Linked DNA regions of Homo sapiens: region 1 is linked to region 2. The links come from fine-mapping of genetic effects on gene expression. Tissue or cell type: whole blood. Region 2 holds a variant in brackets; the other region holds the start of a gene. Each region is shown on its reference strand, or each on the opposite one. Region 1 holds the start of KLRF1 (killer cell lectin like receptor F1). Region 2 has its middle 7.3 kb from the start of KLF2.

Region 1 (4,397 bases), not on the chromosome of region 2:
ACTTGGCCCCTCATTATATAAGTTTGACTGAAAATATGTAAATGTTTTATGCTACTATAAAGTAAGTTAAACAAAAATGAAAAAAAATCCATAAAAAATGAAGAAAAGGAATCTAACTAGGTATTGTTAGTGTCTTCACTATAGAGAGAGGAATTACTTAAAGTGATTTTAAAACATTTAACTGTGCATGCTCAATGGAATATATCTTAAGGATTTTTTAAAACCGCAAAACATTTTAATCTGTTTTAAGTAACTATTATTATAATATTATTTCTATAGTGATTCTGAAACTACTACATATGTATAGTGGGATAGAGCAATTATGTAATTTCTTACTATCACTGGCAACAAAGGTTTTTCAATATATGAGAAAAGATTTACAAATATGTCATCACAAAATTAAGTTAAATGAATGAACATCATAACCCCAAGGCTCACATTGTCAATCTAATTCACATAAAATACGTCTTACCTCAAGCTTTAATAAATATTAGCTAAAGGTACAAGACATAAATATTAGTATGTGTCACTTAAATATCTGGGAGCCGAAAATCTGCACATTTTTGCTTCAGAGAGACATTTATGAACAGAGTGTGGAAAAAAGTCTGCAGAGAAGTCACTACATGTTGTAGTCTTTCAGGTTTAATATCTCTAATTTCCAAAAATGAAATAAAAATTGAGTGTAGGAAGTAAAGACTTGAAAATATGGGAATCTAAAAATTCACATGGAAGAGGCAATAAATTTCTTATACATAGCACGTATGTAACTCTAAGATGAATCACTGATGGATGATACTTGTGGAAGGACTCAAGAGATAAGTAAAATTTTCATGGGTGAAGTTATTAAAAGAGAAATATTTAGAAAGCAACAGAACAGAACAGACAGTCTCTATAACTGTGATTATTTGTGTCTTTAATTTCTGCTTATCTCTTTTGCCAAATCACATTAAGGTGGCATGATGGAATTGCATTGTGTATGGAGGGTATGCTTGAAGTAGCAAATTAAAATGTTGATTGCTGGTGTATAAACTTTATTTTGAGTCAACTTGGTGAAAAGCATAAAGTTTTTGAGAAGTTGAATTAAAAATTAGTATTAAAGGCTGGGCGCGGTGGCTCATGCCTATAATCCCAACACTTTGGAAGACTCAGGTGGGTGGATCACCTGAGGTCAGGAGTTCAAGACCAGCCTGGCCAACATGGTAAAACCCCATCTCTACTAAAAACGCAAAAAATTAGCCAGGCATGGTGGCGGGCACCTATAATCTCAGCTACTCAGGAGGCTGAGGCAGGAGAATTGCTTGAACCTGGGAGGCAGAGGTTGCAGTGAGCCGAGATCATGCCATTGCACTCCAGCCTGGGCAACAACAGTGAAACTCCGTCTCAAAAAAAAAAAATAGCATTAAAACACCATATTCTATGAATGATAAGGAGGTGAATGGCAGCAAATATTCACTAATTTGAAATTATTAATTTTAATTGAGTATGCATATTTCCTCAGAGAATGTCCTTAAGAAATTATATCAGACAAAATATTACAAGTAAGTGTTAGTTCCACATTGATAAATGGGAGAGAGAGAGATTATCTCATAGTAAATTTGTAAGATTAAATGAAGGAACATAGATAAAACATTCTGTATAGTGCCGGAAACTGGTGTTTCTTAAATGGTAAGAGAGGTTGTTATTTTTAAATCATTATTAATATTGAAAGAGAGGACAGGTGAGAGAGATACAGAGACGGAGAAAGAAAAGCACCCAAATACTGAAACAGTCCAATAACACAATGGAACAGGATACGGGAAACTACCATGTTAATTCACACCAATTGAAAAAATGAAATTAAATTCCATACCTTTAAATGTAAGTTGAGATGTTTGGGCAGAACTCCTTTTCTTTGACTGTACATTCAATGTCATGTATCTTTCTTCATCTTGCATCTTCAATGTGAGTGAATGTGTGTGTATACAGGTATGTTTTGTTTTATTAAGTATAACATGAAATGAGGAAAGAATAATAAATCTGCTGCTAATCAGAGATGCTCCTCAAATTGTCCTTTCACAGTACATATGAGGGTTCACAGTTTCACTTATTTGTGAAAACCTCAGAGGAAATGTTTTCTTTTTAAAAGTTGCTTTCCCATGACATAGATAACACATAATTTCTCAACTGTCCACCACATATTGAATTGAATATTCTTTTGAGTGCTTTACAAATTTCTCTTAATTTACCCTTAAAGTCAAGGGAATGGAAATTATGCCCCTTTTTGAGGTGAGGTTAATAATATATAGCTGCCTTTTGTTATAGCCTAAATATTTATATCATTTGAATTAGCCTCCCTAACATATTGATATTTAATTTAATAATTTGCAATTGCCAAGCAATTAAATTCTTTATCCTAAAACAATATTGTTTATAAATCATGCTAATAATTTAACAGTATAATTTGATTTTTTTTAACTTTTAGGTTCAGGGCTACATGTGTAGGTTTGTTATATAGGTAAAATCATGTCACAGGGGTTTGTTGTACATATTATTTCATCACCCAGGTATTCAGACTAGTACTACATAGTTATGTTTTTCTGATCCTGCCCCTCCTCTCACCCTCCACCTTCAAGTAGGCTCCGGTGTCTGTCATTCTCCTCTATGTGTACATGTGTTCTCATCATTTAGATCCCAATTATTAGTGAGAACATGTGGTATTTGGTTTTCTGTTCCTCCATTAGTTTGTTAAGGGTAACGGCCTCTAGCTTCATCTATGTTCCTGCAATGGACATCATCTCATTCTTTTTTATAGCTGCATAGTATTCCTTTGTATATGTGTATCACATTTTCTTTATCCAGTCTACCATTGATGGGCATTTAGGTTGATTGCATGTCTTTGCTATTGTCAACAGTGCTGCCATGAACAGATGCATGCATGTGTCTTTATGATAGATTTATATTCCTTTGGGTATATACCAGTAATGGGATTGCTGGGTCAAATTTCTGGTTTTAGGTCTTTAAGGAATCACCATGCTATCTTTCATAATGGTTGAACTAATTTACACTCCCATCAAAGGTGTATAAGTGAACCCTTTTCTCCACTACCTCATCAGCATCTGTTATTTTTTGACTTTTTAATAATAGCCATTCGACTGGTATGAGATGGTATCTTACTGTGGTTTTAATTTGCATTTCCCTAATGATTAGTGCCTACTGGAGGATAGAGGGTGGGAAGAGGGAAAGGATCAGGAAAAATAACTAATGGGTACTAGGGTTAATACCTGGGTGAAGAAATAATCTTTACAGCAAACCCCCATTACACAAGTTTACCTATGTAACAAATTTGCACATGTACTCCCAAATTTAAAATAAAATTTTAAAAACACAATATACCCTTTTAAATAAGATAAACTATTAATTCAAGGAGAAAATATTTGACAAATTATCAGAAATATATTTGTTGCTTAATGACAAAAGTAAAAGGATAATACATTTTTGTGTTATTTTTGTTTATTTTTACTTGCTAAATTTTGTTCTTTAATTTATAATTACAATTTCTTTGGCCATTATTTGACACTCCAAATGGATAAGAAGTAAATTAAGATTGATAAATAAAACACGAAAAGTATCTGTTCATGTCCTTAGTCCACTTTTTAATGGGGTTGTTTATTTTTTGCTTGTTGATTGGTTTAAGTTTCTTACAGATGCTGGATATTAGACCTTTGTCAAATGCATAGTCTGCAAAAATTTTCTCCCATTCTGTAGATTATCTGTTCACTCTGTTGATAGTTTCTCTTGCTGTGCAGAAGCTCTTACAGTTAATTATTTTGTTTGTTTGTTTTGTTTTGTTTCACTTTTGTTGCAATTGCTTTTGGCATCTTTGTCATGAAATATTTGCCCATTCCTGTGTCCAGGATGGTAATTCCTAGGTTATCTTCCAGGGTTTTTTATATTTTGGGGTTTTAGACATAAGTATTTTATCCATCTTGAGTTGAGCTTTGTATATGGTATAAGGAAGGGGTCCACTTTCAATCTTCAGCATGTGGCTAGCCAGTTATCTCAGCACCATTTATTAAAAAGGGAATCCTTTTCCCATGGCTTGTTTTTGTCAGCTTTGCTGAAGATCAGATGGGTGTAGTTGTGCAGCACTATTTCTGGGCTTTCTGTCCAGTGGTCTATGTGTCTGCATTAGACCATTGTGTTCCAATGGTCTATGTGTCTGCTTTTTTTTTTTTTTTTACCAGTACCTTGTTATTTTGGATATTGTAGTACTGTAGTATAATTTGAAGTTGGGCAATGTGATGCCTCCAGTGTTGTTCTTTTTGCTTAGGATTGCCTTGGCTATTTGGGCTAATTTTTCTGTTCCAGATGAATTTTAAAATAGTTTTCTTCTAGTTCTGTGAAGAATGTCATTGGTA
Region 2 (4,397 bases):
GGTGGTGGTGAAGGTGGCACAATGCTGTGAATGCTGCTGAACTGAACACTTAAAAATAACCAATTTTGTGCTGGGTGTGGTGGCTCACGCCTGTATTCCTAGCACTTTGGGAGGCCAAGGGGGGCGGATCACCTGAGGTCAGGAGTTTGAGACCATTGGCCAACATGGTGAAACCCCGTCTCTACTGAAAATATAAAAATTAGCCGGCTGTGCTGGCGTGCGCCTGTAATCCCAGCTACTCGGGAGGCTGAGGCAGGAGAATCACTTGAGGTGGGAGGTTGCAGTGAACCGAGATCGTGCCACTGCACTCCAGCCTGGGTGACAGAGCAAGACTCTGTCACAAAAAAAAAAAAAGTGAATTTTAGCCAGGCACAATGTCTCACTCTTGTAATCCCAGCATTTTGGGAGGCCAAGGTGGATGGTTCATTTGAGCCCAGGAGTTTGCGACCAGCCTGGGTAACACAGTGAGACTCAGGCTCTACAAAAAATAGAAAAATTAGCCAGGCGTAGTAGCACACTCCTATAGTCCCAGCTGCTCTGGAGGCTGAGGCGGGAGGATCACGTGAGCCTGAGGAGGTCGAGGCTGCAGTGAGCTGTGATCGCACCACTGCACTCCAGCCTGGGCAACAGAGTGAGACCCTGTCTCAAACAAAACAAAACAAAAACAGTCAATTTTATGTTATGTATATTTAATCACAATAAAGAGAAAGAATGAAAGAAAGAAAATATGGGATGAGAGAGAAAAGAACACGGTGATGGGGCAGATCAAATCACGCTGGAGAAAGAGCTCAGGCTACGAGCAGAGGGTTGGTGAGGCCCCTGTCTCCAGCCTCCTGGGCTCAGTATCCCTTCTAGAACTATAGAGATGACTTCCCTAACTGGCATCAGCTTGGGCCTGTTCTCTGCACTCAGGGGAGCCCCCAGTAAGAACCAGCCCGAGAGGCTGATGCAGGAGGATTGCTTGAACCCAGGGGTTCGAGGCTGCAGTTAGCTGTGATCGCACCACTGCACTCCAGCCTGGGCAACAGAGCGAGACCTTATCCCAAAAAACAAACACAAAAACCACTGGGTCATATGGATATACCACACTTTTATTGATTCATGAGTTGATGGGTATTTGGGCTGTTTCCACCGTCTGGCGCATGTAAATGGTGCTGCCTCGAACACGTGTGTGCAAGTATCTGTTTGTGTCCCGGTTTTTATTTCTCTTGGGACTATACCTAGGAATGGAATCACTGGGACCTATGGCAATTCCATGTTTAGCATTTTTTTTTTTTTTTTGAAACAGAGTCTTGCTCTGTTGCCCAGGCCGGAGTGCAGTGGTGCAATCTCGGCTCACTGTAACCTCTGCCTCCTGGGTTCAGGTGATTCTCCTGCCTTAGCCTCCCGAGTACCTGGGATTACAGGTGTGCACCACCACGCCCGGCTAATTTCTGTATTTTTTTTTTTTTTTTAGTAGAGATGGGGTTTCACCATGTTGGCCAGGCTGATCTTGAACTTCTGACCTCCAGTAATCCACCTGCCTTGGCCTCCCAAAGTGCTGGGATTACATGCGTGAGCCATGGTGTCTGGCCCCCAGGCTCGTCTTAACTTATTATTATTTTTTTTTTGAGATGGAGTCTTCCTCTGTCGCCCAGGCTAGTGTGCAATGGTGTGATCTCGGCTCACTGCAACCTCCGCCTCCCGGGTTCATGCAATTCTCCTGCCTCAGCCTCCCAAGTAGCTGGGATCACAGGTGCCCACCACTACTCCAAGCTAATTTTTGTATTTTTAGTAGAGACGAGGTTTCACCATGTTGGCCAGGCTGGTCTCGAACTCCTGACCTCAAATGATCCACCTGCCTTGACCTCCCAAAGTGCTGGGATTACAGGCGTGAGCCACTGTGCCCGGCCTCCTCCTAACTTCTTATAGGGCACCTCAGGGAACCCTATTCACCCAGCCTCTTCCCGACCCCTTGTCCCTCCCTGTCTGGGATATTCCTGGCAAATGGGCTTCTCAGTTCCTTTTAGACAAAAGCCTAGAAGGAACTCAGCAGGGCTTCCAGGAACCCCTAGAACCTGTGTGTGGAGGGAAACAGGGCAAACCTGATGCATTGGTGCATTCAGATGTTTCTAGGCACAGGAGGAGTTGCGGTGGCCAGGCCAGGCAGACCTGGGTTGAAGCCTCAGCTCTGCCACCTGCACCAGGTCCCCCAGCTAACCTTCCCCTCTCTGAACCCCACTTTCCACCTCTAGAAAATGGGGGTGCTTAGGCAACCCTCAGGCTTGTGGGGAGGTTGAAAGAGATAATTTGTTGAAGGTGCCCAGAATGAAAGCACCCAAGCTCGAGTCACAGGGTCCACCGTTAGCACAAAGTTAGGTCATGCGACAAACATTTTGGCACTGACTCTG[G/A]GCAAGGCCCAGAGGCTACGTCACTTTTTTTTTTTTTTTTTTTGAGACAGAGTCTCGCTCTGTCTCTCAGGCTGGAGTGCAGTGGTGTGATCTCAGCTCACTGAAACCTCTGCCTCCCGGGTTCAAGCAATTCTCGTCCCTCAGCTTCCCGAGTAGCTGGGATTATAGGCGCCTGCCACCATACCCAGCTAATTTTTGTGTTTTTAGTAGAGACGGGGTCTCACCATGTTGGCCAGGCTGGTCTCGAACTCCTGACCTCAGGTGATCCACCTGCCTCGGCCTCCCAAAGTGCTGGGATTACAGGTGTGAACCATTGCGCCCGGCCAGAGTCACTCCTGAGATTCTGAGTCATATCTGCTTGCCATACAGAGCATCTGCTGAATGAACAGGTGAATGAATGAATGAATGAGCGAAGAGGGTTGTGGGGAGAGGGAGAGAGAGGGAGGAAGGGGCCTTAAAATTCAGGCACACCAGCTTTATCAGAGGACACTCACTGTGCTGGCCACACCCCAGGGGTGGGCTCTGAGCTTTAGTGTCTCATTTCATTTTCACAGCAGCAAACTCATTTTCCACCCAAGGAAACTGAGGCACAGGCAGGCAAAGTCGCACGGCTGATCTGAGGGTTTCTTTCTTTTTTTTTTTGAGATGGACTCTCCCTATGTCACCCAGGCGCCATCTCAGCTCAGTGCAACCTCCGCCTCCCAGGTTCCAGTGATTCTCCTGACTCAGCCTCCCAAGTAGCTGAGATGACAGAGATTATAGGCGCCTGCCACCACACCCAGCTAATTTTTTTTTTTTTTAAGTAGAGACAGGGTTTCACCATATTGGCCAGGCTGGCCTCGAACTCCTGAGCTCAAGTGATCCACCCGCCTTGCCCTCCCAAAGTGCTGGAATTACAGGTGTGAGCCCCCGGGTCTGGCCAGGGGACGGGTGTTAATTGGCATTGAGTCGGTGAAGGCCAGAGATGCTGTTGAACACTGCAGTGCACAGGGTGGCCCCGCACTGGAGAATGATTCAGCTCCAAATGTCTTTTGTTTTTTCTCTCTTCTCTCTCTCTTCCCCCGCCCCCCACCCACCCAGAAACAGGGTCTCTCTATGTTGCCCAGGCTGGTCTCAAACTCCTTGGCTCAAGAGATCCCCACACCTCGGCCTCCCAAAGTGCTGGGATTACAGGCATGAGCCACCGCTGTGCCCAGCTCCAAGGCTGATGCTCGCTGGTCTGGCACAGCTGACACAGCTCAGGCCGGGGCAATCGGAGCCACCCAGCCCTGGCACCTGACAAATCAGCTTGAGCCTATGGTCCTGGGACTCCACCTGGGGCTGCCGGGCGTGGGTGCTGACTCAACCGTGTTGACAGGGCTGGGTGCTGAGTCAGGGGTGAGCCTATAGACATCTTGCCCTCTGACAACGCCCCCTTCCTCCTCCCACTTCACACCACATCATTCTGCAGCCTGCCTGGGTGCTGGGGCCCCCAGAACTACAGGAAGTGCCTAGCAGAAAAATAGCTCCTACATCTCTCCCCAGCACCATGCCAATAAGCCCCTCAAAACTGTCACCTCTCCCCCACCCCCTGCCATAGCTGGGCTTGGTGGTCTGCATCTTTAATCCCAGCATTTTGAGAGGCTGAGGCGGGAGGATTGCTTGAGCCCAGGAGGGGCAATATAGTGAGATCCCCTCTGTACAAAAAAATGTAAAAATTAGCTGGGCATGGTGATGCATGCCTGTAATCCCAGCTACTCGGGAGGCTGAGGCAGGAGGATTGCTTGAACCCAGGAGGTCAAGATTGTAGTGATTGTGCCACTGCACTCCAGCCTGGGTGACAGATGAGACCCTATCTCAAACCAAACAAAATAAAACCTTCACCCTTTTCAACCCTTTTACCCACAGTGCTTGTTTCCATAAATAACTCCTGCCATATCTAAAAGGAATATTATGCAGCCATGAAAATGACAATACAAATGTATAACTGGGGGAAAAAACAGCATCGACAAATGATTATAACTTTGC

What was found. PIP is the estimated chance that this variant, and not a neighbour inherited with it, causes the effect. A credible set is the group of variants that fine-mapping cannot tell apart.
Region 1: it holds the start of KLRF1, and the variant in region 2 is the best candidate, but not a certain one, in a credible set for the expression of KLRF1 in whole blood (TOPMed, PIP 0.67).

The regions. Positions count from the first base shown.
Region 1 is chr12:9,825,082-9,829,478 of GRCh38, reverse strand. It overlaps KLRF1 (killer cell lectin like receptor F1), which reads right to left and starts at 1,998. Exons shown (of 6, transcript NM_016523.3): 1 at 1,850-1,998. The coding sequence starts at 1,934.
Region 2 is chr19:16,329,965-16,334,361 of GRCh38, reverse strand. No RefSeq gene overlaps it. Among named protein-coding and RNA genes, the nearest start is that of KLF2, 7.3 kb to the right of the region's middle. RefSeq lists an enhancer at 3,312-3,421 and a silencer at 3,772-3,821. The variant G/A (reference allele first, on the strand shown) is at 2,391.